Homo sapiens: one gene and its partners. The protein of the gene in region 3 interacts with the protein of the main gene of each other region in a pairwise test. Each region holds a gene or a part of one and is shown on either strand. Other genes may lie near its edges. The genes, in order: MCMBP, FRMD8, ZNF474 and UBASH3A.

Region 1 (7,036 bases), on a different chromosome or scaffold from region 3:
TCTTCTTCATTTTTGTCTTCTTCCTTCTCTCAGCAAAACCTATTTTTCACTTATATTTAAAATAAAACAGAAGGAAGAAAACTTTTAATAGTTTGTTCTTCCATCTTACTTATTCTAGTGTTTTGATCCTGATAAATGAGCAAGTGATAGAAGGTTCAGAAATGATTGTTAAGGATTTCTATCCTTATTCTTTGTGCATTTTGGGTTTTTTTGTTTTTGGGGGGTTTTTTTGTTTGTTTTTTTGAGGCAGTCTCACTCTCTTGTCCAGGCTGGTGTGCAGTGGCACGATCTCGGCTCACTGCAACTTCTACCTCCTGGGTTCAGGCAATTCTCGTGCCTCAGCCTCCTGAGTAGCTGAGATTACAGGCATGCACCACCACACCCAGCTCGTTCTTTATATTTTTTGTAGAGATGGGGTTTCACTATGTTGGCCAGGCTGGTCTCGAACTCCTGACCTCAAGTGACCCACCCACCTCAGCCTCCCAAAGTTCTGGGATTCCAGGGGTGAGCCACTGCACCCAGATTCTCAGTGGTTTTAACTGAAATGACACTTAAGTCATATGGCACAGGGACCAAAATTACCATTTTTTCCCCTGCCTTGCTTCTACCAGGTCTAATCAGTAAATGGCCTTGACTATTACTAAGTCCATCATGACAGACAATTTTGAAAGGTTTTTTTTTTTTTTTAAATTGTGAAAAATCTTCTGGCCATTCCAAGTTTTGTGTTAATCCGATGTTGCAGTTTATGAATAAATGCAAAGTTAATCATCTTGTTTTTGTTTTTTCCTTTTCTTGGTGTGGTTTAATAGGTTTTGAGATAGTGCACAGTTCTAGTTTTAACTGTCAGCCTTTGGGAAAAGGCTTTTTTTAATTTTAGGAAAAGCCTTTTTTTTTTGTAGTACTGTGGTATATTGAAAACAGACATTAGTCTGGAAGTTAGGCATCCTGTGTTTTGGTTTTTCACTTATTTGCTAACTAGCAGAATGACTCTTGGTCTCAATTTATAAAAATTTATAAAATAAAGGACTTGCTTTAAGGTCTGTTTCCTGATCTAAAATTCCAAGATATTGGTACTTCAAGACTAATATCTTAAGCTTTGTGTCTGTTCTAACAGTGTGATTTCATGTGGTCTCTTGTTAGGTTTATGAAGATTGGGATTGTTTCAAAGTAAATGACATTCTTGAGCTATATGGCATACTGTCTGTGGATCCTGTGCTGAGTATACTGAATAATGATGAAAGGTGAGTCTGTGTGCTCTTTTTTTGGTCTCCTTTATTTTTATATAATTTCAAGTTTTCAGGAGAGTTACAGGATGGTTTTAAAGAACTCCCTTTTCCCTTTCTCCCAGATGTACCAGTTGTAAACACTTGCACCCCATGTGTTTTGTCATTCATTTGTGCTCTCTATGCACACATTTTTCTGAAACACTTGAAAGTATGTTGCAGAAATCAAGCCCTTTTACCCCTAACTGCTTGTCAACATTTCCTAAGAGTACTGACTTTCTCATATATAATTAGAGTACAGGTATCAAAACTAGGAAATTTGCCACAAATATACAATACACTAATCCACAATCTATACTTAATTTCACTAATTGTCTTAATCATGTTCTTTCTTACACGTCTCCCTTCTGCATCCCCCAGTCCAGGGTTCAGAAGCTCGCTCATTCTCTATTTCTACTGAGTTCATACTGTATTTCTGATTCCAGTTCAGCACCACAGGTGTCGTTCTGCTTGTTCTCCTTTCTGTATTAGTGTAACTCTCTTAAACTTGATTCCCATTTTTCACAATCTTATCATTTGCACATTTTTACAACATAGAGAAGGGAATTTCAGAATTGTTAACTCATACCTTTACAAAACATAAACCTAAATAACTAGAGTTCAATCTGAAACAGTCCTCAGCCTTTGTCTTTCATGGTCTTGCCACTTTTTTTTTTTCCTTAAACAACAGAAATATATGTCTTCCAGTAGTTCTGGAGGCTGGGAAGTCCAAAATCAAGTTCCCAGCAGATCTGGTTTCTAGTGAGGGCCCGCTTCCTGGTTTACAGATGGCTGTCTTCTCACGTGGTAGAGAGCAGACAGCCTTGATGCTTTTGAAGAGTGTAAGCCAGTTACCAGTTACTTGTTTCCTCATGGTTAGACTCAATGTTTTGCATTTTTGGCAGGAATATTACAGAATTGATGTATCCTCAGTATGTTACAGCAGGAGGCATGCGATGTCAGTTTGTCCCTTTACTGGTGAGGTTAATTTTCATTAGTTGGTTAAGGTGGTGACTTCCAGATGTCTCTTCTGTAAAGTTACATTTCTCACTTTGTAATTGACAAGTAACTTGGAGGAAGGTACTTGGGGACATAAATATCCAGTTTCTCATTAAACTTTCACCAATTTATTTTAGCATTCATTGATGATTCTTGCTTGAATCAGTTATTACTTTGTTGGCAATTTTCTAACGCAGTACATTTATTTATTGGCATTCTACTATAAAAGATACCTCTTCCATTTGTTTATTCAAGTAATGTATTTACTTATATTTAGTATAGACTAATAGATTCTGATTTTATTCAATGTTAATATCATTATTTTATTTCGAGACCCAAATTTTCCCAGATTTGGCTAGTGGGAGCCACTTTAAGCAGGTGCCGGGTCCTTTTTTTGAGATGATGTTATCATTTTTTAACATTTATTTTCTGGCATATTAAGCTGTTGCAGCTTCATCGTATGCTTTGAAGATCTGAGTCCTAGATGTGCTCGTTGGTACTGGATTAGATTTGCATCTAGGCCCTTAAAGTAGACAGAGCTAGGATACATGCAGCATATGGATACATATATACGCACCCACATTTAAATGCACACATACACACTCACATGCATGTTTTGTGTATTTCTAATGTCTGTGAAAAACCATGGGTTCATATTTCTGATTCCAGTTCAGCACAGCAGGAGTCACATGTTCTAGTTGTTCTCCTTTCTATATTTATGACTTCTTTTTCTAACAAATTTGATTCCCATTATTCACAATCTGTTGTTTCCCCATTTCTACCATATACAGAAGGGAATTTCAGAATTGGTAACCCATACCACTACAAAACAGAAACCTAGTAATTAGAGTTCAATACATTTCCAGTTCATTTTTATTTTAGAATGCAGCTGTGTAGTCAGAGCTATGTTCCACTTACTCAGGTAACTTTTCTTCCCCTTCAGTGTGATTTCATTATTTATTTTACTTAGAAAGATTCTCAGAGGTGTCATTCTCGGCTATCCCCATTCCTGCTGTCTGTTCCCACCCAGCCTCCTTAGGGAACCACAGTTTCTGGTTTATCCTTCCTGTATTTATTTTTTTACAAAAATATGAAGATACGTATACATTTTATTTCTACCTTTTTCTTCTATAAAAGGTAACATGGTATATATACTCTTACACTTTTTAATTTTTTTTATTAACAACATATCTTGGAAATCTAGACCTTCCTCATTCATTTTTGTTTTGTTTTGAGATTGCCAAAAGCAAGGGCTGATGTCCCTCATCTACACCAGAGTCCTCTTGTTGAATACCGGACATTAATCATCTTAGTTTCTGTGTAGGATGAACTTAACATTTTTCACAGTTAAAAAAAAATGGTACAAAACAAAAATTTTAAACAACTTTAAATAAGCTTAACCGTCCCTTAATAATAGTATATGAGATTGTTCATCTTGGCAATTTCTGATTGTGATGACTTTCCTGCTTTAGTTACTTCACTATTGATGTAGTTTAGTTTAGAGGTTGTATTAGGGGTCTCTAAAGGGTCAGAACTGATAGGATAGATGAATATATGAAGGGGAGTTTATTAGGAGAATGACTCACATGATCACAAGGTAAAATCCCACAATAGGCTGGGGAGCAAGGAAGCCAGCCTGAGTCCCAAAATCTCAAAAGTAGGGAAGCCACCAGTGTAGGCTTCAGTCCGTGGCTGAAGGCCTAAGAGCTCCTGGTGAACCACTGGTGTAGGTCCAAGAGTCCAAAAGCTGAAGAACTTGGAGTCTGATGTTTGAGGGCAGGAAGCATCCAGCATGAGAGAAAGGTGGAGGCGGAAGACTCAGCCAGTCTGCTCTTTACATGCCTGCCTTTATGCTGGCAGCTGATTAGATGCTGCCCACCCAGACTGAGGGTGGGTCTGCCTCTCCCAGCCCGCTGACTCAAATGTTAATCTCCTTTGGCAACACCCTCACAGACACATCCAGGAACAATAATTTTCATCCTTCAATCCAGTCAGATTGACAAAGTATTAACCATCACAGAGGTTAAGAGCACAGACAGGCAGGCAGCCTGGGTTGGAGTCCTGACTTGGCCACTTACTAGCTATGTCACCTTGGGCTTGGTTTCCTCATTGTAAATAAGGGTAGATGTGAGGTTTTGGTGAATTTGTACGTGTAAGGCATTGAACGTTGTCTGTCACATGGTACGTACTATGGAAAAGGTTATTATGCTTGTATTAAAAAATACAGGAGTATGAATTTATTACTTCAGTGTCTATAGATTCTATAAAGTCAAGATCTAAAAGATTAGCTATTTGTTTTGGTCGTCTCACAAATCTATCATCTGCAGATTTATTTAGCAAGTCTGAAAAATTCATACTTTCATTGCTTGTCTACTCAGTCTTCGAGGGATCATGTAAGAATTAAATTTAGGAAAAACAATTAGCAAGATAAGAGATGAATGGATTCTCCACACGCTGAATAATAGATACCAGATGGCTTTTGAGAAAAAGACCCCAGTTTTTGAGATCTGCTGTCAAGTATTCGATGTCCCGGCCAATAGTTCAAGGAGTACCTGTGTTTTGAAATAGCCTTATGAGTGACATCCTACATTCCATTTATTGAAGTGCTGAATAACAAATATTATTGTTTCTGGCCAGGCATGGTGGCTCACGCCTGTAATCCCAGCACTTTGAGAGGCCAAGGCAGGCAGATCACTTGAGGTCAGGAGTTCGAGACCAGCCTGGCCAACATAGTGAAACCCTGTCTCTACTAAAAATACAAAAATTAGCCAGGCATGGTGGTGTGCACCTGTAATCTCAGCTACTCAGGAGGCTGAGGCATGAGAATCGCTTGAACCCAGGAGGCAGAGGTTGCAATGAGCCAAGATCGCATCACTGCACTCCAGCCTGGGCAACACAGTGAGACTCCATCCAAAAAAAAAATAAAAATAAAAATACCGTTCTTGAAAAATTGAATAAATGCATTATTTCATGATATGTCTTAACAAGCCTGAAGTCTGTGTGATGTAACACTTTAGAATGAGAGGCCACTTTCTGTTCTTTAAGGAGATGTACAGGTGGAAATATTCTTGGCTTTAACTCTAATTTTGTTTTCCAAGATGCACATTATTTTTGCATCTGTGCAATTGATGTCTCTCTAAATTGAAACTTTATCACCTCTCCACAGGGATGCCTCTGCACTGCTGGATCCGATGGAGTGCACAGACACAGCAGAGGAGCAGAGAGTACACAGTCCTCCTGCTTCATTAGTGCCGAGAATTCATGTGATCTTAGCCCAGAAGTTGCAACACATCAACCCATTATTGCCTGCCTGCCTTAACAAAGAGGAGAGCAAAACCTGTAAGTGTAAGTGTTACAGCCTAGTCAACTATCGACTGTTAGCCTCAGTGTGTCCAGAGCTGCCTGTAACGTGCTCATAGTGGAATTGAGAGTCAGGTCTTCATTCCTCACAATAAGTGTTTTCAGTAATCTCTCTCTCGTTGCCCCATTTTTCTCTTACATTAATTCTCTTCACTGAAATGAGGACAAAAGAGTATACAAGGCTGGGTGCAGTGGCTCACGCCTGTAATCTTAGCACTTTAGGAGGCCAAGGTGGGTGGATCACCTGAGGTCAGGAGTTCGAGACTAGCCTGGCCAATATAGTGAAACCCTGGCTCTACTAAAAATACAAAATTAGCCAGGTGTGGTGGCGTGTGCCTGTAATCCCAGCTACTCGGGAGGCTGAGGCAGGAGAACTGGAGGCAGAGGTTGCGGTGAGCTGAGATGGCACCATTGCACTCCAGGCTAGGCAAAAAGAGCAAAACTTGGTCTCAAAAAAAAAAAAAAGGAGGATGCAAACTGCCTTATTTTTAAGATTAGCATCACTTACTGACGGATATGTTAAGCTTTACCTACTGTCGACTGAATTGTGCTTTGCTCACGTAGTTATTTTTTTACCTAAGACACTTGAGAGGAACTGGAGTGTGTGTCCTGACTCAGGTCTTCCTTTCTCCTTCAGTTGTTTCAAGTTTCATGTCCGAATTGTCTCCAGTCAGAGCAGAACTTCTTGGGTTCCTTACTCATGCCCTTCTGGGGGATAGTTTGGCTGCTGAATACCTTATATTACATCTCATCTCCACAGTGTAAGTGCTGTATCCTGGTGGGAATTAGGGGAGTTTGGTGTGTGTGGAAGTGGAAGAGCGGGAAGATTGCTGGTGTCATTTGTGTGTTTTCCTTATTGGGCTTCATCACATGGTTTTTATCTGTCCAGTGTTAACTGTTATACCAAATCACAGACAAATTCCTTTTCTCACAGTTCACATTTAGCATTTTGATTATGTCCCCTTAAATTTTAGAGCCAAAATCAGATAAAGCAGTGGTCCCCAACCTTTTAGGCACCAAGGACCCATTTCATGGAAGACCATTTTTCCATGGACCGGAGTGGGGATGGTTTCAGTATGAAACCGTTCCACCTCAGAACATCAGGCATTAGTTAGATTCTCATAGGGAACACACAGATGTGCAGTTCACAATAGGGTTCGCGCTCCTGTGAGAGTCTGATGCCACTGCTGATCTGACAGGAGGCGGAACTCAGGCGGTAATGCCCACTCATCCACCCCTCACCTCCTATGTTGTGGCCCGGTTCCTAACAGGCCATGAACCAGTACTGGTCCACGGCCTGGGCGTTGGGGACCCCTGAGATAAAGGACCTGGCTGATGAGTAAAATGAGCTGTTTTATCCCTTTTGCATTCTGAACGCTCTGTTTATACATCCCAAGGCGCCCACGTCATGTGCA
Region 2 (7,050 bases), on a different chromosome or scaffold from region 3:
GATCTGCAATGGCACCATTCTGCTCAGTCAAAACCAAAACCCTTTCAAGGATCTGTGAGCCACAGGGTGCCGCCCATTCTCCTCTGACCTCACGTCCTGCCACCCACCCCCTTGCTTTCTCTGCTGCAGCCACCCGAGCCTCCAGACTCTTCTTCAGTCAGCCTTCTGTCTCCAGGCCTGTGGACTGGCTCTTCCCTCTTCCTGGGCACTCTTGCCCTGGCACCCCTCCAGCTGGGGCTCAAATGTCACCACCTGGGTGAGGTCTGCCCCGCCTCCCCAGCCGGAGGCACTGCTGGCTCTTCCTCTCTTTCTCCATCACAGTTATCACGCCAACATACGATGGGAAGAACTTGTCTGTCTGGACAGGGATCTCTGGGTGTTCTGTGCACAGCGGGTGGCACAGGGTGGGCTCTCAATAAATCCTGAGTGACTGAATGAACGGAAATGTCAGCCAGCAGCATCAGCGGCAGCCTGGGGCTCCAGTTCCCTCTTCCCATCACCAAACGGCCCTGGGAAACATCAAGGCCCAGTGACACCTGCACCCTCCCCTCCAGATCTCCCCGCAGCTCCTAGTCTCCCATGGGGGACGCCCAAGGCCCAGTCCTTCTCTCCCTTCTCCTCTCACTGTGGCCAAGGCAGAACCCACCCACCCCTGCTGCTTTCTCCCGGGTGGACAGATTCGGGAAACAGGACCTCCTACCTCCTGCCTCTGGAGCTGCCTGGGGCTCCTTGGGCCACCCCCAAAGATCATCCTAAAAGACCATCCCCAAAGACTGGCCTCTCGTGGTGGCTTGGGCTGCAGTCCTGGTTCTGCTTCTTATTCCTGAAACTGCCTTTGCAAAAACTATAACTGATACAGGCCAGGCGCAGTGGCTCACGCCTGTAATCCCAGCACTTTGGGAGGCCGAGGCGGAAGGACCACCTGAGGTCAGGAGTTCGAGACCAGCCTGACCAACATAGTGAAACCCCATCTCTACCAAAAATACAAAAATTAGCCGGGTGTGATGACGGGCGCCTGTAGTCCCAGCTACTTGGGATGCTGAGGCAGGAGAATCGCTTGAACCCGAGAGGCAGCTGTTGCAGTGAGCCAAGATCATGCCACTATACTCCAGCCTGGGCAACAGAGCGAGACTCCGTCTCAAAAAAAAAAAACAAACAAACAAACAAAAAAAAAACCCTCCTGTCTCTCGTACAGCCAGCTCTGCATGAATTAAACTCTCCTTATTGCAATTCCCCTGTCTTGACAAATTGGCTCTGTCTAGGCAGAGGGTAAGGTGAACCCAATGGGCGGTTACATTATCTCTCTCAGTGATGTTGAGCAACCTCTTCTGTGGGCCTTGGGGTCTATTATTGTTTGCCAAAGTAGGACAGCAGTCGGGCTAATTGATGTCTAAGCCTCTCAGCTCTAAAGGCTGGAGGCCGCCTCCTCCCTCACTTCAGAATGGGTCTCATTCTCTTTTCCAATCTCACCGCCTCACCCCAGTTTGAGAAAGACCCTCATTCCCACTTCCCTACAGCCTTGCTGAAGGGAAGCCCACCTAAGCATGGCGTCATCTTGTGAATCTCTAGCTCACAACCTCCAAAATGTTCTTACTGTCTAACACGCCTGCCCCATATCTGTCATCCTGGGGTTCAAGGCCTCCCCCATGGTGCCACCCACCTGCTATGCTCTCACACAGCGGGGGTCTTTCCTGGGGTCCTAACCATGCTCGTGCAGTTCCCACTACCTGGAATGCCTTTCCTTCCCCACCATCAGCCTCCCGGACTCTCTCCCAGTGCCCCTCCTTGACTAGACCCGGGTTCTAGCCTCCCCACCACCACCGCAGACACTCCCAGGTGTCAGTCTTTGACATAAAACAGAGATGTGATACTCACCTCTTAGTGAGTTCTAAGGATTAAAGCACTTTAAAAAGTGGCTGGCACGTAAATGGCAACTGCTAATACTTATTTCCACTCTCAGGACGCATGAGAATGACACAGGAAACAGGGGAAAGGGCCTGGCCCAGTGCCCCACACACAGCAAGTGAGCAGAGACTTTTCCTGCCTGTAGCATTTCATAGTTCTTAAGGCAATGCTGTCATCTTCTGTGGTTTTATTTATTTTTTTGGAGACAGAGTCTCACTGTTGTCCAGGCTGGAATACAGTGGCAGGATGGCGCTATCAGAGCTCACTGTGAGCTCACACTCCTGGGCTCCAGCGATCCTCCCACCTCAGGCTCCTGAATGGCTAGGACCACAGATGTGTGCCACCACACCTGGCTAATTTTTGGGTTTTTTACAGATGGCGTCTCACTATGTTCCCCAGGCTGGTCTTGAACTCCTGGCCTCAGGCGATCCTCCTGCCTCGGCCTCCCAAAGTGCTGTGGTTTTAAATGTGCTGTTCTCCTGGGCTTCTTTCTCTTTCCCCTCTTCCTTAACTCACCAATTAAACCACAACAGACACTTTCTGAGGGCAGGGCCACGTCTCCCCTCAGTCTCCATCCCCTGACCTAGCACAAGCCCCGCATCCAGTAAGCATTCAAAACAACACTGAACTCTTCTGCTCCTGCTTCACTCCAGCTGGGTCAAGAGGCCATGGAGATACAGTGTGTCCTGGTCTGAGGGTCCCAGAGCTGAGAACCAGGAAGGAGATGCCTGCCCCCACTGGACACCCTTCCCTGCAGCCCACATCTGAGCTTCCTCAAGTCCTTAAGTCACATTGGCAAGGCAAATGTGATGTCATGGGCTCAGCTGTGGGGCAGTGTGGATCATAGGAGGGCAGGCAGAGCTGGTTCACATACCAAAGAAGGCTGGACTGGGTCAGGAGCTAGAGCTGCTTTCCAATCCCAGGGAACCAGGGCAAAGTGAACCCACTGCCCTCTGTTCCTGATCACCAAGCCCACTGCTGTCACTTGGGACAACTTCTGGTTCCTCTGGCCCCAGAAGGTGCCCCATGGACTTATTTTTCTCCCTGAGTTCCACATCTCAGATGCACACATGTTGCATTACCAGGACATGTCAGTGACATGGCCCTGAGGGTAGGTGGTTTCACACCTGCCTCTTTGGGGCCCCAAGTCTCCTCCCAGCCTGGGAAAACCTCAAGGTCTCCCAGGCTGTTGTGTAAGATAGTAAGGGCTCATGTCACTGCTCCCTGGAAAAACAGAGTGTCTGTCCTGGTTTTCTGATTTAGACATATATATATAAATTTTTTTTTTTTTTCAGACGGAGTCTCGCCGTCGCCCAGGCTAGAGTGCAGTGGTGTGATCTCGGCTCACTGCAGGCTCCGCCCCCTGGGGTTCACACCATTCTCCTGCCTCAGCCTTCCCGCGTAGCTGGGACTACAGGCGCCCGCCACCTCGCCCGGCTAATTTTTTGTATTTTTAGTAGAGACGGGGTTTCATCGTGTTAGCCAGGATGGTCTGGATCTCCTGACCTCGTGATCCGCCCGCCTCGGCCTCCCAAAGTGCTGGGATTACAGGCGTGAGCCACCGCGCCCGGCCGACATAGACATATATTAATAATCATTTAGAGAGTAGGGATAGTCCTTGGGGGTCATTCAGTTCAACCACCTCATTTTACAGATGAGGAAAACTGAGGCCCAGAGGAGAAGGGACTTGTCCAGGATGAGTCTGGGCCAGGACTCATTCTCCTGACCACTGCCGAGAGCGCCACGGTACAGGCCGCTGCCAGCGCCGCATGGATCCCTGGCACGTGCCAGGAAGTGTCCATTTCACAGGCAGGGAACTAGCCCGAAGACCCAGCGTGGGCAGGCCAACGCCCCTAGCCTGATTCTCGAATCTTCGCCAAACCCTCTTACAGGCCAACAGTCGGGGCCTTTGTGAAGGGAAACTCGCTCTGGGTCACTCTGGTGGTGGCGGGGCTGGTACGTGACGCGGCCACCCCACGGGCGTGATGAGACACGCGAGGCTGGCGTCCGGGCATGCGCGGGCCGCGCGGGGCGGCCCTGGGCTCCCATTGGCTCCCCCGGGTCGAAGGGGGCGGGGCCTCGGGCGCCGCGCTTCCTCCCGCCGTGGCTTCCGCGTCGCTTCCCGGTCAGCTGCGTCCTTAGCGGGAGCCCGAGTGCGGGCGGTGGCGGGCTTGGCGGCGGGGCAGGATTCCAGGCAGGAGCCTTGCCTCTCAGGTGGCGGGCTCTGCGACCCTGCGAGGTGAGAGCACAGCGACGTCTGGCCCGGGCCTCCGTCCCCGGCTGGGCGTGCGCCTTGCCCTGCCTGGGCATCCAGGTCGACCCCCGGTTCTTGACCGTAGCAACCCGCACCCCTCCCACCAGCGCCCGGTCTGCACTCTTGGCCCCTCCAGGCAGCGCCGCTCAACCTTGCGGACCCAGCCTGGGATCCCTTACCGTACTCACCGAGAGCTTGAGGAGACCTCCAGCCCCCCATCCCTGGCTCCCGGTAACTGCTGTTTCTCTTTGCCTTTGCAGATGGACGGGACAGAAGGCAGTGCCGGGCAGCCCGGCCCCGCTGAGCGATCCCACCGAAGCAGCGTGTCCTCCGTGGGAGCCCGAGGTGGGTCCCACCCGCATCTCCTCTTCCACACCCTCCTGGGACCCCAGCCCTGGAGAAGTAGCTCTGGCTTGTCTTCTTTTTCATTAAAGATAATTTATGTATCGACTAAGAAATAATAAGGTACATTCAGATGTGGAAAACTCACAGAAGTCAGAGGCTCTGTCACTAGTTTACTGGCCAGGTTGGGTCCTCGCTCTCATTTGTAAAATGAGCTTGTTTAACATAGCTGTGAAATTCAAATGAGATTATATGAATGAAAAGTGAAGGCTGATGTGGTTCATGCTTGTAATCCCAGAACTTTGGGAGGCCAAGGTGGGCAGACCACATGTGCCCAGGAGTTCGAGACCAGCCTGGGCAACATAGACAAAAAAGAAAGTGACACGTTCACTTTCTTTGTGTCATTTCTTTTTTTCTTTCTTTCCTTTCTTTCTTTCTTTGACAGAGTCTCCCTCTGTCGCCCAGGCTGGAGTGCAGTGGTGCGATCTCAGCTCACTGCAAGCCCCGCCTTCGGGGTTCACGCCATTCTCCTGCCTCAGCCTCCCGAGTAGCTAGGACTACAGGCGCCCGCCACCACGCCTGGCTAATTTTTTGCATTTTTAGTAGAGACGGGGTTTCATCGTGTTAGCCAGGATGGTCTCGATCTCCTGACCTCGTGATCTGCCTGCCTCAGCCTCTCAAAGTGCTGGGATTACAGGCGTGAGCCACCACACCCGGCTGTGTCCTTTCTTTCTCCCAAACAGCCTTTTGAAAGCAGGGATCAGGCTGGGCGTAGTAGCTCACACCTGTAATCCCAGCACTTTGGGAGGCCGAGGCGGGTGGATCACTTGAAGTTGAGAATTCCAAGAGCAGCCTGACCAACATGGAGAAACCCCTGTCTCTACTAAAAATGCAAATTAGCTGGGCGTGGTGGCACATGCCTGTAATCCCAGCTACTCAGGAGGCTGAGGCAGGAGAATGACTTGAACCTGAGAGGCGGAGGTTGCGGTGAGCTGAGCTCGCACCATTGCACTCCAGCCTGGGCAACGAGGGTGAAACTCCGTCTCAAAAAAAAAAAAAAACAGGGATCATATCATGATCTTCATTTGATAGGGAGGAAACTGGGCCCTAGGGAGGTTAAGTCCCAGGCAGGCTGTGGAAGCTCTCCAGGTGATTACATACTGCAGCTTCTGGTGCCTCAGTTCTTGCCTGAGAAGTAGATCTGAACCTGAGCCTCCTCGAAGTGATTTTGTGATCTCTGAGAGTAGCTGCTGGAGCATAACAGACTGGGGGTCCGAGGAGCACCTTCTCTTGTGTAGATGAGAAACCGTGCCCTTCCCTTCCACACACTCTTGGAGGGAGGAGTATTAGCTCTACTTTTACAGATGAGGCAACTGACAACTTAAATTGACTCCCTGAAGTTGGCCAGCGACCAGGCAAGGATGGGAACCCGAGTATGTCGGCCCCAAACTCCAGTGTTCCTTCACCATGCCTGCAGTCTCAGGGATGGGGATTTGAATCTGGTTGCTCTTCCAGGTGTCTCCATTTGGCTCTGGAACCCACAAGTTGTCACAAGGGAACTCTCAGCTATTTGGGCTGTTCTTCCCTAGCCTGCTTCGTATTGACTCCTGAGGCTTAAAGAGTCCTCAGACTTAAAGAGTCCCAAGGAAGCTGAGACCTGGAACTTGCTTTAACCTGGGTGACCTAAAGAATTATCTCTTCGCATCTTAGCCTCAGTCAGAGAGAGACTTGCCTAAGGACAGCAGCGGGTTACCAGCTCTCGCTCCTGCCAGCCAGCCAGACTAACTGCCATAGCCTCAGGATGGTTTCAGCCTCTCTATGCTGTGGTTTCAGCCTCTCTGTGCTGTAGTTTCACATCTGTGGCATGTTCTTGTTCAGGGCAGAAGAACAGTTGAATCCTTGGGGCAGCTATGGTGGTGAGGGGCAGGTTTGCAATGGCCAGGCTTAATTTGAATCTTGGGGGATTGCGGTGGGGCTGGTCTCTGGGCAGGAGTTACTGGGTTTCTGGGTGGTTTAAGGGTGTCAAGGAAGCACTAATAGATAGCATTCGTGATAGGGTCTTTTGGGGCTGCTGGGGCTCTGCCTCTGGCGAGGACTCTGTCTCAGGAGCGTAGCCCTGGTCACCCCTGAGGGGTGTAGGGTGGGGGCTCCAGCCCCAGTGGGTGGTAGAGGGTGCCTGGTTGGCCTGGCCTGGCTGTGCCAGGCAGAGGCCTCAGCTGAGCCTGCCTGGTCTCCATCACAGCGGCTGACGTGCTGGTATACCTAGCGGATGACACGGTGGTGCCCCTGGCTGTGGAGAACCTGCCCTCGCTCAGTGCCCATGAGCTGCACCGCGCTGTCCGCGAGGTCCTGCAGCTTCCAGACATCGCCCTGGATGTCTTCGCGCTCTGGCTGGTCTCCCCTCTGCTGGGTAAGGCTTGGCAGTGAGGAGCCCAGGCTGGAGGGTTGGAAGGGCACTGACCAGTACAGGAGGGAGGGGGCAGTGTTTGGAGCCGCTGGGGAGCCGCTGGCCACTGCCCATGGGGAAAGGTGGGACTTGGGTTTATCCT
Region 3 (7,000 bases):
AAATCTGAAATTTGAAATAACATTATTAGGATGAATTGTGCTAATCACCAGTATTAAAATACAGATATCTCTCAATTAGTATTAGGTTTCCATGTGAATAACAGACTCTTAAAAATGGCTAAAATAAAAATAAAAATTTACTTTTCTTATGTAAATAAAGTCCAAGAAAGGCACTCCAGGGCTTCTATGATGGTTCCAGCATTACCAGGGACCCAAGTCCATCCAGGCCTCTGCTCTGTCATATCAAGTGTTACATAAATGAAATCTGTTCTCAACTGGCTGCTAAAGCGCCAGTCATCACATCCATCTTCGAAGCATCAGTAAGAAGGAAAGGAAGAGAAGCAATTGTTCTCTTCTTCCTTTTCAAGAATTGTTCTTACAAGTTCCACACAATATTTTCACTAACTACAAAGGAGCTTGTAGATGTGCCCAGCTGAAAGTTGGGGCTCTATTAATTGAGGGAGTTGAGTGGAATGGCTATTGGTAAGGAACTAACTGTCTCTGCCGGACATTAGAAGGGACATTATCTCATCAATTATAAGCCTTGGTGTAAATGAGTCCATCAGTTCCTTTTTGAAAGCAAGATTTCATAGGTAAGACGGACTGGTGAGCATACAAGAATACTAGGCTGGAGAGTGGAGGCTGCTGAATGGGGTGGGTGAACAACATTGAAGATGAACCTCCTCTATTTTAGAATCTTGATCAGAGCCACCATCAGCCCCAACTCCATCTTTCTTGTTTATGTTTTTGTTCATTTAAAGAATTTGAATTCAATACTAATAGAGAAGGGATCATATCATGTATCAACTATATTTCTTTTGTTTCAAAGGGCTAGATTTTTTTATATACTTTAAGTTCTAGGGTAAATGTGCACAACGTGCAGTTTCGATACATAGGTATACATGTGCCATGTTGGTTTGCTCCACCCATTAAATCATCACTTACATTAGGTATTTCTCCTAATGCTATCCCTCCCCCATCCCCCCACCCCACAACAGGCCCCCATGTGTGATGTTCCCCGTGCTGTGTCCAAGTGTTCTCATTGTTCAGTTCCCACTTATGAGTGTGAACATGAGGTGTTCGGCTTTCTGTCCTTGTGACAGTCTGCTCAGAATGATGGTTTCCAGCTTTATCCATGTCCCTGCAAAGGACATGAACTCATCCTCAAAGGACTAGATTATTTTTTAAAAGATATGATCACACTTTTCATTGTGTTCTGTTCCCTCTCTTTTAGAGAGACACCTTCTAATGCCAAGATGGTTTTTGGATTTCCACGGTTATTACATTCTTCTTTGTGTGTTTGTCTCTCCCTTCCCATGAACCCTGAAGAGAATGGAAAAATGGCATCATGTTGATAAAAGGTGATGCCTTCCAGGACATTCTGTAAATGTCCTATGTGCAGATATGGTCAAAACGAATAATTCAGGCCAACTGAGTGAACATTTCTCCAGAGATGCTTGAGGTAAAACTGTCTGGCTTTGCAAAGTGGTTCTCTTTATAAACTAGCAACATTGCTTTATGACGTTTTGGGTGACAGGCCAATTTCTTATGTGATTTAAGTATATGCATTTAGTATTTTCCAGCACTTTTGCTTTTAGAGCTAACTTATAAAGGGAGAGCAACCAACACTGCTGTGCCATGGCATGTTGCCTTTGCACAGTCACTGGCAGAAACATTACGCATTTCTCCATAAGACACCTCCGTTCCCAAAAATTTCACTGGCTTCCAGCTACCTCATCTTTCATATTTTGATACCTTTAGTCACAATAAGGGAAAAATTTCAGGAGAACATTGGAGAAGGAAAGGGATGGTAGAAAAAGAAAAGTTGAAGATTCAAATGGACGTTTTGTGATGTTTCATCGTGTTTGCTGCAGAGAAAATATTTGCAGTGCACAAATGTTTGTGTGCGGTAAGATCTATCCCTAATCAAATGGTGACATGGCTTCAAACTGAGCACTACCTGGCCTCTTGGGGCAGCCTTCACTTTTACCCTGTGCCCATGATCAAGACAGACAAAACACATCATTCATCGTTGGTCTGCCCCATTCCCCCAACTGGTCCCTACCTCTGCTGGTTATGTAGATTTTTCTGAAGATATTGGTGAAATTAAGAAAAGAATCTGTACTGCACATCACTCAGGAAAAACTACATCTAGAAAACAACTGTATATGGCAAAAGTGATTCTTTTTTTTCTTTTTTTTTTCTTTTGAGATGGAGTTTCACTCTTGTCAGCTAGGCTGGAGTGCAATGGCGCGATCTTGGCTCTCTGCAAACTCTGCCTCCCGGATTCAAGCGATTCTCCTGTCTCAGCCTCCTGAGTAGCTGGGATTACAGCCACCATACCCAACTAATTTTTGTATTTCTAGTAGAGACGGGGATTCACCATGCTGGCCAGGCTGGTCTCAAACTCCAGACCTCAGGTGATCCGCCCACCTCGGCCTCCCAAAGTGCTGGGATTACAGGCATGAACCACCGCGCCCGGCCTGGAAAAAGTGATTCTTAATGCAGAAACAGAAAACCAAATACCACACGTTCTCACTTATAAGTGGGAGCTAAACGTCAAGTACACGTGGGCATAAAGATGAGAACAACAGATAGTGAATGCAAGCGGAGGAAGGGCTGAAAAACTACCTATTAGGTACTATGCTTACTACCTGGGAGACAGATTCATGTGTACTCCAAACCTCAGCATTACACAATATGCCCATATACCAAACCTGCACATGTACCCCGAACCTATAATAAAAGTTGAAGAAAAAAAGTCCCCTGTCACTTAACATTGAAAACATTGTGTTCCATAGCCCCAGTCTCTCTCTTCTGCTTTGTCCCTCTCAGAGGCTTCTCCTCTGTGCCTTGTCTGCACTCCTCCTTCTTGCCTCTTCTTTCTTCTAAAAGGAAGCATAACAGCTGGTGAGAGCTTAGTTACCTTCCCCTGAGGCATATGGATAATACATTAAAACAGGGATAAAAACTAAAGGGAAGAAGCTCTGCTGGAGGAATTTAGGCAGAATGAATAATGGAAAGAGCCACGTATTGGAGCCAAAGAGAGCTGGAATTGATTCACAGTTCTGTCATTTAGAAACTGACAGTCTTGGGCAAATTACTTGTCTTTTCTGAGTCAGTTTCTTTACTTATAAAGTTGAAATAATAATACCTGCTTCATAATCATTTGAGAATTAACTAAAATTATGTTTACAAAAAATCTGTGCCCTATCTGGCATATAATTGGCATTCAGTAAATATTACCTCTCTTGCCTTATCAAAAGGGAGATGGAGGGGTTGCTGGGGAAAGTCATGGGGATTTCTCAGTATTCTAATCTGCTGGAAACAGAATTGACTCTGTGTGTGTGTGTGTGTGTGTGTGTGTGCGCGCGTGAGAGAGAGAGAGAGAGAGAGGGAGGGAGAAAGAGACAGAGAGAGAGAAAGAGAGGCAGAGACAATTTAGGGGAAGGAGGCTTATTTGATTGCATTGATTTTTCTAATCTGTCTTCTTAAGTCATATTAGTGTCTGCAATTTCCTAGTATCAAGGAAAATGATAAACTAAAATTCCTCGGTGAACAGAGCCAATAAAGCAGAATGGTTTGTGGAAATAACCCACGGGCTGGATTTAAAACCTAATGAAATAATTTTACCCTATTCCTATGTTCCATAGATCTACTTTCTCTTTTAGATGGTACTGATCGAGTGATAAATTTCTCTGTTTTATTTTCTATGCTGGCCACTCTGGGGCCAACACATACTTTTCCCACATCTGTTAACATTACTGTCTTAGAATCTGTCAAAATGAAGAATAACTTCTTTCTCTGTGCCAGACCTGATTTGATACTCTTAAAGGCAAGGATTCAGACCTTTGTTGGCACCAAAGTACAGGAGCTGGGCACAGATATCACAGCTCTTCTTGTTCTTTATCAAATCCAGTGCCCAGGGTTTCCATATTACCAGGACTGCTGGCCTTGCACTGTCCAAACTGAAGTGTTTGCCGTGATGTAGAGGATCCAGCTTCATACCAGGGGCTGCTCTTCTGTGGTTAAGAATGGATGCTTTAGAGTTTATCACCCTGATAAATGAAACGATAAAGGAAATGAAAAAGGTCCTGAGGCTTCTGAAATAATCTTTTTGGGGAGCCAGATTATAAACCCACGGTAAAATTTACTCATAACTTTTCCCAATATACAAATTTAAGATTCTTCCCATAAATGGATATCTAAGCTGCCACTTCTTCTGGTGGGGATCCTTGGGGAATCCAGGGCCTTTGTTTTATATTTAAAAATATTTGGAAGTCATACATATATAAAACAAGAAAGTAGGTATGATACCTTTTTAATAAAAAAAGAGCCTCAAGCAGCATCTGTGTATCATCTTTCCATGAAAGATCTGCAGATATCCCACCAGGATGGGTGCCGGCCTAGGCTGTACTCTTTGCTGGAGAATTATAGCTCCACTTTATTAATACCCTATTCCCATAATAAACAAAAGTGAATACATGATGTGTCACAAGAAGTTTATGTCCCTCTGAGGGCTATCCTGATAATCCTCATAAGATTCATTCTTGAATTACTTCTTCTGCAAGAGTTCTTAATTTCAGGTCCATGGACACTCAAGAAGTCTGTGACACAACTTTACCTCAATTAAAATGTATATCACAACTAGAAACAGTTGACAAATTATTTCAGTAAAACTGATTTCACCTGTGATAGCAACAATTTTTATTTTTACTTATAAAAATACTATTCTGAGAAGTGCATAGGCTTCACAGAATTGTCAAAGGAATCCATGTCACTAACAAGTTAAGGATCTCTGACGTAGTGGAAGTTTCTGTGGGGCCCAGGGGGTCTTTTCGTATGACCTGCTGATTTCATTAATCTAATATTCACAGTTTGCAGTTTTCTCTTCTATGGTCTCACCACCCTGGTCTCAGCCTCTATTGCTTTGCGTCTTCTGTATCTATGATGTGCTGTAATTGTCAAGTTAACTTTTTGGGCAGAACACGATTTTCAATACAGTGATAGTGCAATTGATGATGGAAGATTTCCTCAGGTTTATGTCAGTTTATTGACCAAATCCCATATGCTGGTTACTGTGCTAGTCAAAAAGTATACAAGGTCAATATTTAAAACAAGCAAAAAAAAAGCACACACACACACACAAAACAACCTAAATGTGTGTGTGTGTGTGTGTGTGTGTGTGTGTGTTTACATAATAACTTCTTATGTCTCCCACCCGCCTCCACAGATCTTGGAGACATCTCAGCTTTAATGAGGACTTTCCAACATTCCAGACTGCCGTCCTGCAATGAAGCTCTGAGTCACGGTCTGTGAGGCTAAGGTACTGGCAACGGTGTGAACCCCAGGACAACTAACCTCACTAACCTTCACTCTAAGCAGAAGCCCAAAGTGAGTCTGGCCTGAAATCAGAGCAAGCACTACAGAAAGACATCTTTGTTAATGGAAAGAGGAAAGAAGAAAAGAATTTCCAATAAGTTACAACAAACTTTTCACCATTCTAAAGAACCCACTTTCCTTATCAACCAAGCTGGGCTTCTCTCTAGTGACTCCTATTCTAGCCTTTCCCCAGAAACAGAGAGTGTTAATCCTGGTGAAAATATAAAGACAGACACTCAGAAAAAGAGACCTGGGACTGTGATACTATCAAAACTGTCAAGTAGAAGAATTATATCGGAAAGCCAGCTTAGCCCCCCTGTGATCCCGGCCCGCAGGCCTGGATTCCGGGTATGCTATATCTGTGGCCGAGAATTTGGGTCCCAGTCAATTGCCATTCATGAACCCCAGTGCTTGCAGAAGTGGCATATTGAAAACAGCAAGTTGCCCAAGCATTTGAGGAGGCCAGAACCCTCCAAACCACAGTCTCTCAGCAGCAGTGGGTCCTACAGTCTTCAGGCAACTAACGAGGCTGCATTTCAGAGTGCCCAGGCTCAGCTGCTGCCCTGTGAATCCTGTGGCCGCACATTCTTGCCAGATCATCTTCTTGTTCATCACAGAAGCTGCAAGCCAAAGGGTGAGGGTCCCAGAGCACCACACTCAAACAGTTCTGATCATCTTACTGGCCTCAAGAAAGCTTGTAGTGGAACCCCAGCCCGACCAAGGACTGTTATCTGCTACATATGTGGTAAGGAATTTGGCACCCTGTCCCTTCCTATTCATGAGCCCAAATGCCTGGAAAAGTGGAAAATGGAAAATGACCGGCTCCCTGTGGAGCTCCACCAGCCACTCCCACAGAAGCCTCAGCCCCTTCCGAATGCACAGTCCAGCCAAGCGGGACCAAATCAAGCTCAGCTTGTGTTCTGCCCACATTGTAGCCGAATCTTTACCTCAGACCGCCTCCTGGTACACCAGAGAAGTTGTAAAACTCATCCTTATGGGCCAAAATATCAGAATTTGAATTTAGGGAGTAAAGGAGGCCTAAAAGAGTACACTAATTCCAAGCAGCAAAGGAACAGGGCAGCACCCAGTGTAACTGATAAGGTAATTCATGCCACACAAGACGCATTAGGTGAACCTGGTGGTGCCCTCTGCCTGTAGGGGAACAAGAGAAAACTATCCCCAGAATCAGCCACCTCAGCCCCTAGTATTTTTTCTATCAATGCCTTGTATCAGCCTCAAAGCAGCCTGTTCAAGTTAACTCCCTGTTGAACTCCAGGGCCTATACCTCTCTTGGCTGAATAGATATAAGAACATCCTTGCCTGATGGGTTCATATTCCTCTTCAATTCTGCTGTCTAAAAGAAGAAGAGATGGACTTCTTTCTTCCCTGATCCCTGATACAAATAATCCCTGGGAGAGACAGTAATTTGAAAATGAGTCATTAATGCTGTGTCTACATTACAGAGATATAATTCCCATTCCAACAGCCAATATTTATTGTCGGTTTATTTTAGTCATCTACCTTAGGAATTCATTTTTGGCAATGCTGGGTTATGCTGAGTTTATCTTACTAAAATAGAATCTGTGTCAAAAACCCCCAATGACTTTAGCAACAATTA
Region 4 (6,966 bases), on a different chromosome or scaffold from region 3:
TCTCGATCTCCTGACCTTATGATCCGCCCACCTCAGCCTCCCAAATTGCTGGGATTACAGGCATGAGCCACCGCGCCCGGCCCCAAAAGAATATTATTTAAAAATCAGGCAGGGCACAGTGGCTCACACCTGTAATCCCAGCACTTTGGGAAGCTGAGGCAGGTGGATCACCTGAGGTCTGGAGTTCCAGCCGGGCCAACATAGTGAAACCCCATCTCTACTAAATATATAAAAATTAGCCAGGCATGGTGGTGTACGCCTGTAGTCCCAGCCACTCGGGAGGCTGAGGCAGGAGAATCACTTGAACCCAGGAGGCAGAGGTTGCAGTGAGCCTAGATCATGCCACCGCACTCCAGCCTGGGTGACGGAGTGAGATTCTGCCTCAAAAAAGTGAAAATAAAACTATACAAATAAATATCACAATATGCTCACATTTAATGGTGAAATATTGAGACCTTGTCCTCTGAAATGGAGAGTTATACAAGAAGGTGCACTAGTACCACATCTGTTCAACATTTGACTTGGGTTCCAAGTCAGTGCAATAAAGGCAAAAAAAATAGAAGGAACTATTATGCGTAGAGCTGCCATGAACATTCATAGACCAATCTTTGTGTGGACACACGTTTTCATGTATATTTACCTTTATAAGAAACCCTCCAAATGTTCCCCAAAGTGGTTGGACAGTTACGCATTCCCACCAGCACAGTGTGAGAGCTCCTGTTACTCCCCAGCCTTGTGTAAACCTGGTATTTTCCATTTTAGCTCTTCTGGTGGGTGTGCTGTGGAATCACATTGCGGTTTTAATTTGCATTTCCCTGATGACTAATGATGTTGAGCATCTTTTCATGTCTATGTATATATCTTCTTTTTAAAAGTATCTTTTTTGATACTTTGCCCATTCTTAAAATAGATGCTTGTTTTCTTATTATTTGTTATAAGTATATATAAAATATTCTGTATATTCTAGAAACAAGTCCTTTGTCAGCTATATGTATAGTGATACTTTCTCCCAGTCTGTGGTTCACCTTATTATACTCTTTAAGATGTCTTTCAAAGAGCAGAAGTTTTCAACTTTGGTGAAGTACAGTTCATCAACTTTTTCTTTTGTTGGTTTATTCGCTTTATGTCCTAAGAAAGTTTTGCAAACTCCAACATAGCAAACATTTTTTTTCTAGGTTTTCTTAAGGAGTTTTATAGTTTTAGCATTTACATTTTGAGTTAATTTTTGTATATAATGTGAGGTAAGGGTTGAGGTTCGTTTTTCCTCCTACCAATATGCAGTTTTCCTAGCACTAATTTTTTTTTTTTTTTTTTTCAGACAGGGTCTCATTCTGTCACCCAGGCTGGAATGCAGTGATGCAATCACAGCTCATTGCAGCCTCGATTTCTTGGGCTTAAGCCATCATCCCACTTCAGCCTCCTGAGTAGCTGGAACTAATGCCACCATGTCTTTTTTTTTTTTTTTTTTAAGAGACGGAGTCTCACTCTGCTGCCCTGGCTGATCTCAAACTCCTGGGCCCAAGTGATCCTCCCACTTTGGCCTCCCAAACTGCTGAGATTATGGGCTGAGCCTCTAGCACCATTTATCAAAAGCATTATCCTTCCCCCATTGAATTTCATTGGCATCCTTGTTGAAAATCAATTGATTGTAGGTGTGAATCTTTTTGCACTACCCAATGACACACTATGACACACCATGGCAACCTGATTTGTAAATGTTTATGAAAAAGCAAAGGACAAAACCAGAGGGTTTAGCACTATAGTGATTAAAACAGTGTAGAATGGGCACAAAGAGGGACAAATCAAACAAGAGAGCACACAAGTTAGAAAAAACTAATCCATATACAGTCACTTGATTTACAATAAGCCTCCTACTGCAATTCACTGGGCAAAGGATAGCCCTTTCAATGCGGAAGTAGATGAAAGTTTACCCCTACCTCACACCATACACAGAATGAATTCAAATGGATCATAGAGCTAAATATGAAGAGCAAAAGTAGCAAAACTTCTAGAACAAAACATAGATGATCTTCATCGATGTTGGATTAACAACAATCTCTTGAACAGGATGCAGAAAACTCTAACCAGAGTTCCCACAAATTGATAAGAAAAGCAAACACCCTAGTGAAAAAAAAAAAAGAGCAGAATATCTGAACAGGAACTTCCCCAGAGAGGATATTCAAATGGGCAATAAGCCTGTGAAATGGTGCCCAATATCATTATCCCTCAGGGAAATACAAATGGGAACCACAGGGAGATACAACTACACACCACCCCCACCACAGAGTGGCTAAAATTAGGGACTGATAATATTAAGTGTGCATGAGGATATAGAGCTTTGTACAACTGCTTGGCAGTTCCTAATGGAGTTTCACGTGCTCTGTGATCCAACAACCCCACTCCTAGATGCACACCTAACAGAAATGCATGCACAAGGCACTCAAAGACACATACAAGAACGTCCTCAGCAACATTAGTTACAATAGCAAAACAACCGAAAACTTCCTGAATGCATATCAACAGAGAAATGGATAAATGAATTATGTTATATTTATTTTATTTATTTATTTTTGAGCTGGAGTCTCACTCTGTCCCAGGCTGGAGTGCAGTGATGCAATCTTTGCTCACTGTAACCTCCACCTCCTGGGTTCAAATGATTCTCCTGCTTCACCCTCCTGAGTAGCTGGGATTACAGGCATGCACCACCATGCCCAACTAATTTTTGTATTTTTTAGTAGAGACAGGGTTTCAACATGTTGGCCAGGCTGGTCTCGAACTCCTGACCTCAGGTGATCCACCCCCCCCTTGGCCTCCCAAAGTCCCAAAGTGCTGGGATTACAGGCGTGAGCCACCACGCCTGGCTGGTATATTTATTAATCAAATACTACACAGCAATAACAGTGAACTAACTGTGGCTACAAGCAATAATGTGGATAAATTTTACAGGCATAATTTGAGGAAAAAGAAATGAGATATGATAGAGAATATGCTATATGGTTCTATTTACATAAGGCTCAACCACAGGCACAATTCATATACAAGTGATACAGCAGTTTACTTTCTGGGGGAGGGAGGAGATAACTGGAGGAGGCTGAGCTGGGGGCAGAGGTGCATCTGAGGTTCTGAGAATGTTCCAGAGCAGGCTATCTCCACCTTGGCACTAGTGAAATTTTGTTGGGGAGACTGTCCTGGGCACTGTGACATTCCCGGCCTCTACCCACTAGTGCCGGTACCACGATGTCCACCCCACCCACCACCACCCCCGCCTCATTTTGGAAACAAAAATGTCTCCAGACATTTCCAAATGTCCCCTTGGGTGGAGGAGGTACAAAATTCCCCTGGTTGCCCTGTTTGATTTTGGGTCGTGGGGGAATTAGGGGTGTGGGCTCATTTATGGAAATTCCTTGAGCTATACACATATGATTCATCAACTTTTCTGTACACATATAAAGCTTTTAAAGTTTTTAAAATAAAAAAACAAGTCAATGAATGACTGAAAGAACCAGTAAGTTTTCCAGCAATCCGAGACAATAGATAGAGTGGGGTTTAATGTCTTGTTCACAGACAAGGAGACTGGGATCCAGGGTGGGTCAGGGCAGGGGGCCAGCAGGATCCAGGAGGGAACTCATTCCCTGACTTCTCCTCCGCTTCCTTCCCCCATGCTCTCACGCATTCTTGCTCCCGAATACTAGCCAAGTCCCTACAGAGGCTGATCCCGTGCAGGGGCTCGGTTGGACCTTTAGCCTCAAACTCCCGTGGTGGAAACAGTTAGGATTGGTGGACGCTGCACCCAGCATCCTGCAAACAGAATTCTGAAAACTGATATCTCATGCAAACAGGATATCAACTTTTGTCAGAAAGATCAAAAAGAGCTTGAGGTTTTTCTTCACAGCCTCAGCCTTGCCTCTCCCCCTCTTGCTTTATCTCCTCATTTCTGTGTGCAGGCGAGCTTCTTGGCCTAAGGGCAGGAAGAGATGGCAGCGGGGGAGACGCAGCTCTACGCCAAGGTCTCCAACAAGCTCAAGAGCCGCAGCAGCCCCTCGCTCCTGGAGCCCCTCCTGGCCATGGGCTTCCCGGTGCACACCGCGTGAGTACTGCCCAGAGACCCCGGGGCCCAGCCAGTAAGGCTGGTGCCAGACCCTGCTGCGGCCCCCGGCATGGAGCTGCAGGGGTGTAGGGTACGGCTTCCTGCCAAAGCAGTGCACCTTGCAGGGTAAGACACTGCCTCTTCACAGGGCCCTCTTCTGCTTCTCGTAAATGAGGTGATCTTGACCAAGCTTGTCCAACCCACATGAGGCCCAGGACAGCTTTGGGCTTAAGCCATCATCCCACCTCAGCCTCCTAAGGCTGCCCTGTTCAATTTGTGTTGGCTGCCCAACACAAATTGGTAAACTTTCTTAAAATATTATGAGATTTTTTTTTTAGCTCATTAGCTATTATTAGTGTTAGCGTATTTTATGTGTGGCCCAGGGAGGCACAAGAATACCCCTGATATTCTTGACCTTTTAAAGACCAGCTCGGCTGGCTGACTGGGGGACCCTGAAATTTGTGAAAATCAGAAGCCATGTATTACTCTGGGTGCCCCATTTTGGGGGTTTGGAGGAGATTGGGGCCTGGTTGTAATCTCTTTGTGTGCAGCTCAGTGACTCTGAAAGTGGCGTTTCAAGATATTCAAACTCTAACGTGAAAGGCCCCAAAGCCCGCTGAGTCTCTAACACTGGGACCAACTGTCAGCAGGGCTGTGCTTCCACGCTGCCCGGGGAAAGTCACTTGTCCTCAGAGACAATCCCTTGAGTGTCTGATAACGAAACAAATGGGTAGGAAACTTCAGACACAGTGTGAGCGCGACCCTGCTTACCCAAGGGAAAGGCCTGCATGTGGAAGAGCTTAGCCTTCAGAGTTACCACTCTCGGAGAGGGAGGCCACGACACCAACATTGGGTTACAGCTTTCATGGCAAACCAGTGCCTTAAATCTGACCCATTCATTTTTTCACATGGAAAAATGTATCAGAAACACACTTTAAATCTGACCCATTCATTTTTTCACATGGAAAAATGTATCAGAAACACACTTTAGGTAACTTTGGGTTGGGGAAGGAGCTAAACTTTCCTTCCACACTATAACAAAAGCTTGGCCAAATTGGGTGAAGTAACTCTGAAGCTAGACAAACCCATTTCTTCTCCCCAAATCAGGGCTTTGTCGTCACTGTTATGTTCAAGCTAAGCCAGGGGCCTTTGAATGGGGAGTGGGGTCAGGCATGTGCAGGGCGGCCACCGGGCACCGTCCAGGCATTACAGACAAGGCAGCTTTTGTCCACTGCTCACCACCCAGTGCAGGCAGGACACTGGGCCCAGAGAGTGCATTAGTGGCGGAGGTGGAACCCGAACCAGCTTTCCATGCCTTTGAAGGAGTCCACGCTGGATTTTACTACTAAACGTATAGCATGGACTTCTACTCAAAATTCCTTCCAGTTTAAACATTAAGCACATGTTGGAGGAAGAGAAATGTGTGTTAATTTCCCCACACCAGAGCACCTCATAGTAAGTGCCCTGCACCAAGGCTGCCTTGTTCAAACCTCTCCAGGTGGCCACAGCCCCATCGGTGCCCACCCAAATAGCAGCATTCGGCATCATGTGGTGGGTTCCTCATGGACGCCCGCTGTTTCCAGTCTGCATTCCTGATAAATTACCTTTGCTATATTCCATTCTGTTTCATTTGGTCCAGTTCTGCCCAATTCAATGCAATGTACTTACGTCCCGGGTTACCGTGATGAATAAGACTCAGTCCTGTGTTCAGGGAGTTCTTGGTCTAGCAGGGGAGAGCCGTGGGTGCAAGGGGACTGTGTAAGCCGTAACAAGTGCCTGCCTGGGTGCTTTGGAAAGGGCTGTTTCCCAGCAGAGAGGTGTGGGAGGCGAGCCTGGGGATCAGGGTCGCTGATGCTGGGGTGAGGAAAGCGTGTGTCCGAGCCAGGGGCACGTTCCGCAGGGTGGGTCCATTTGATCTAGGCAGTGGGGGGGGGGGGGGCAGGCCAGGGAGAGGGATTGCAGGAGCGGGCGGAGGTCAGGTCCTCAGCCCTGAGACCCCGTGCCAAGGGCTGAAGCGGGTAGCCAGGGAAGGACAGTGAGGGGGAGGTGTGAGCTGGTCAGCATTGTCCAAAACCACGATGGCAGCACTCAGGGGACAGGCGCTAGAACTTCCAGCTGGAAGTTCAGCATCAGGCCCTCTTCAGAGCACCCCCCAAAGATCCTGGGTGTGCAAGGCCACACCCTGCCTCTCTGACCCTTTTCCCAAGAATGGGCGACGTGACTTTGTGTCTGTGTCTGCTCTTCTGCAGGCTGAAAGCGTTGGCAGCCACGGGGAGGAAGACGGCGGAGGAGGCCTTGGCCTGGTGAGTGCAGCTGCTTCTGTAGACCCAGGGGCGTTTGGGCTGAATTCCCTGTGCCTAAGGACTCCCTCCCACCAGGGCTGATACCAGGAAGAGCCGGGCGCCTCTGGGTGGGATGGGGCCACTGCGGAAGTGAAACAAAATAACCTCCCTGCCTACCCATAGTGCACTGAGGGAGGGGCACAGGGCTTTGGTTAACCATGGAAAGAGAAAGAGAGAACTCTGAACAAGGCTTTCTTCACTTACAAACCTGATTCAATCCAATTTGACTGCCAAGAAGAACAGGTTCATGTGCTTTGTTGAGTAAATGGGGAAGACATGATTGTTGTGTTGTGATAAGCACGTAAATGAGGGTAATTGTTAGAATAAAGTAATTAGGTTAAAAATGGTAACATTTGGGTTTATATTAGTACTGCTAATATTCAGCCTATTTCAGTAATTGAAGAGCAGGCTGGGATTTTGCATACTTGTGTTTGATTATGTCCTCCTCAACTGCCTACTACGATGGATAAGATTGAGATAGATAGGAGGATGTTTGTGTTTATTGATGGAAAGATTTGAGACATAATTGACATCTTT

What was found.
Region 1: the proteins of ZNF474 (region 3) and MCMBP interact in binary tests that used the Homo sapiens proteins (3 or more experiments, as listed by UniProt).
Region 2: the proteins of ZNF474 (region 3) and FRMD8 interact in binary tests that used the Homo sapiens proteins (3 or more experiments, as listed by UniProt).
Region 4: the proteins of ZNF474 (region 3) and UBASH3A interact in binary tests that used the Homo sapiens proteins (3 or more experiments, as listed by UniProt).

The regions. Positions count from the first base shown.
Region 1 is NC_000010.11:119,841,818-119,848,853, reverse strand, and holds part of MCMBP (mini-chromosome maintenance complex-binding protein), read left to right. Parts: intron 1-1,140; coding exon 1,141-1,241; intron 1,242-5,427; coding exon 5,428-5,600; coding exon of another isoform or gene 5,601-5,606; intron 5,607-6,258; coding exon 6,259-6,382; intron 6,383-7,036. UniProt on the Homo sapiens protein: Associated component of the MCM complex that acts as a regulator of DNA replication.
Region 2 is NC_000011.10:65,382,618-65,389,667, forward strand, and holds the start of FRMD8 (FERM domain-containing protein 8), read left to right. Parts: upstream 1-4,019; 5' UTR 4,020-4,144; intron 4,145-4,419; coding exon 4,420-4,504; intron 4,505-6,743; coding exon 6,744-6,911; intron 6,912-7,050. UniProt on the Homo sapiens protein: Promotes the cell surface stability of iRhom1/RHBDF1 and iRhom2/RHBDF2 and prevents their degradation via the endolysosomal pathway. By acting on iRhoms, involved in ADAM17-mediated shedding of TNF, amphiregulin/AREG, HBEGF and TGFA from the cell surface.
Region 3 is NC_000005.10:122,146,546-122,153,545, forward strand, and holds part of ZNF474 (zinc finger protein 474), read left to right. Parts: intron 1-2,778; exon of another isoform or gene 2,779-4,058; intron 4,059-5,233; 5' UTR 5,234-5,445; coding exon 5,446-6,540; 3' UTR 6,541-7,000.
Region 4 is NC_000021.9:42,399,972-42,406,937, forward strand, and holds the start of UBASH3A (ubiquitin-associated and SH3 domain-containing protein A), read left to right. Parts: upstream 1-3,930; 5' UTR 3,931-3,974; coding exon 3,975-4,087; intron 4,088-6,336; coding exon 6,337-6,390; intron 6,391-6,966. UniProt on the Homo sapiens protein: Interferes with CBL-mediated down-regulation and degradation of receptor-type tyrosine kinases. Promotes accumulation of activated target receptors, such as T-cell receptors, EGFR and PDGFRB, on the cell surface.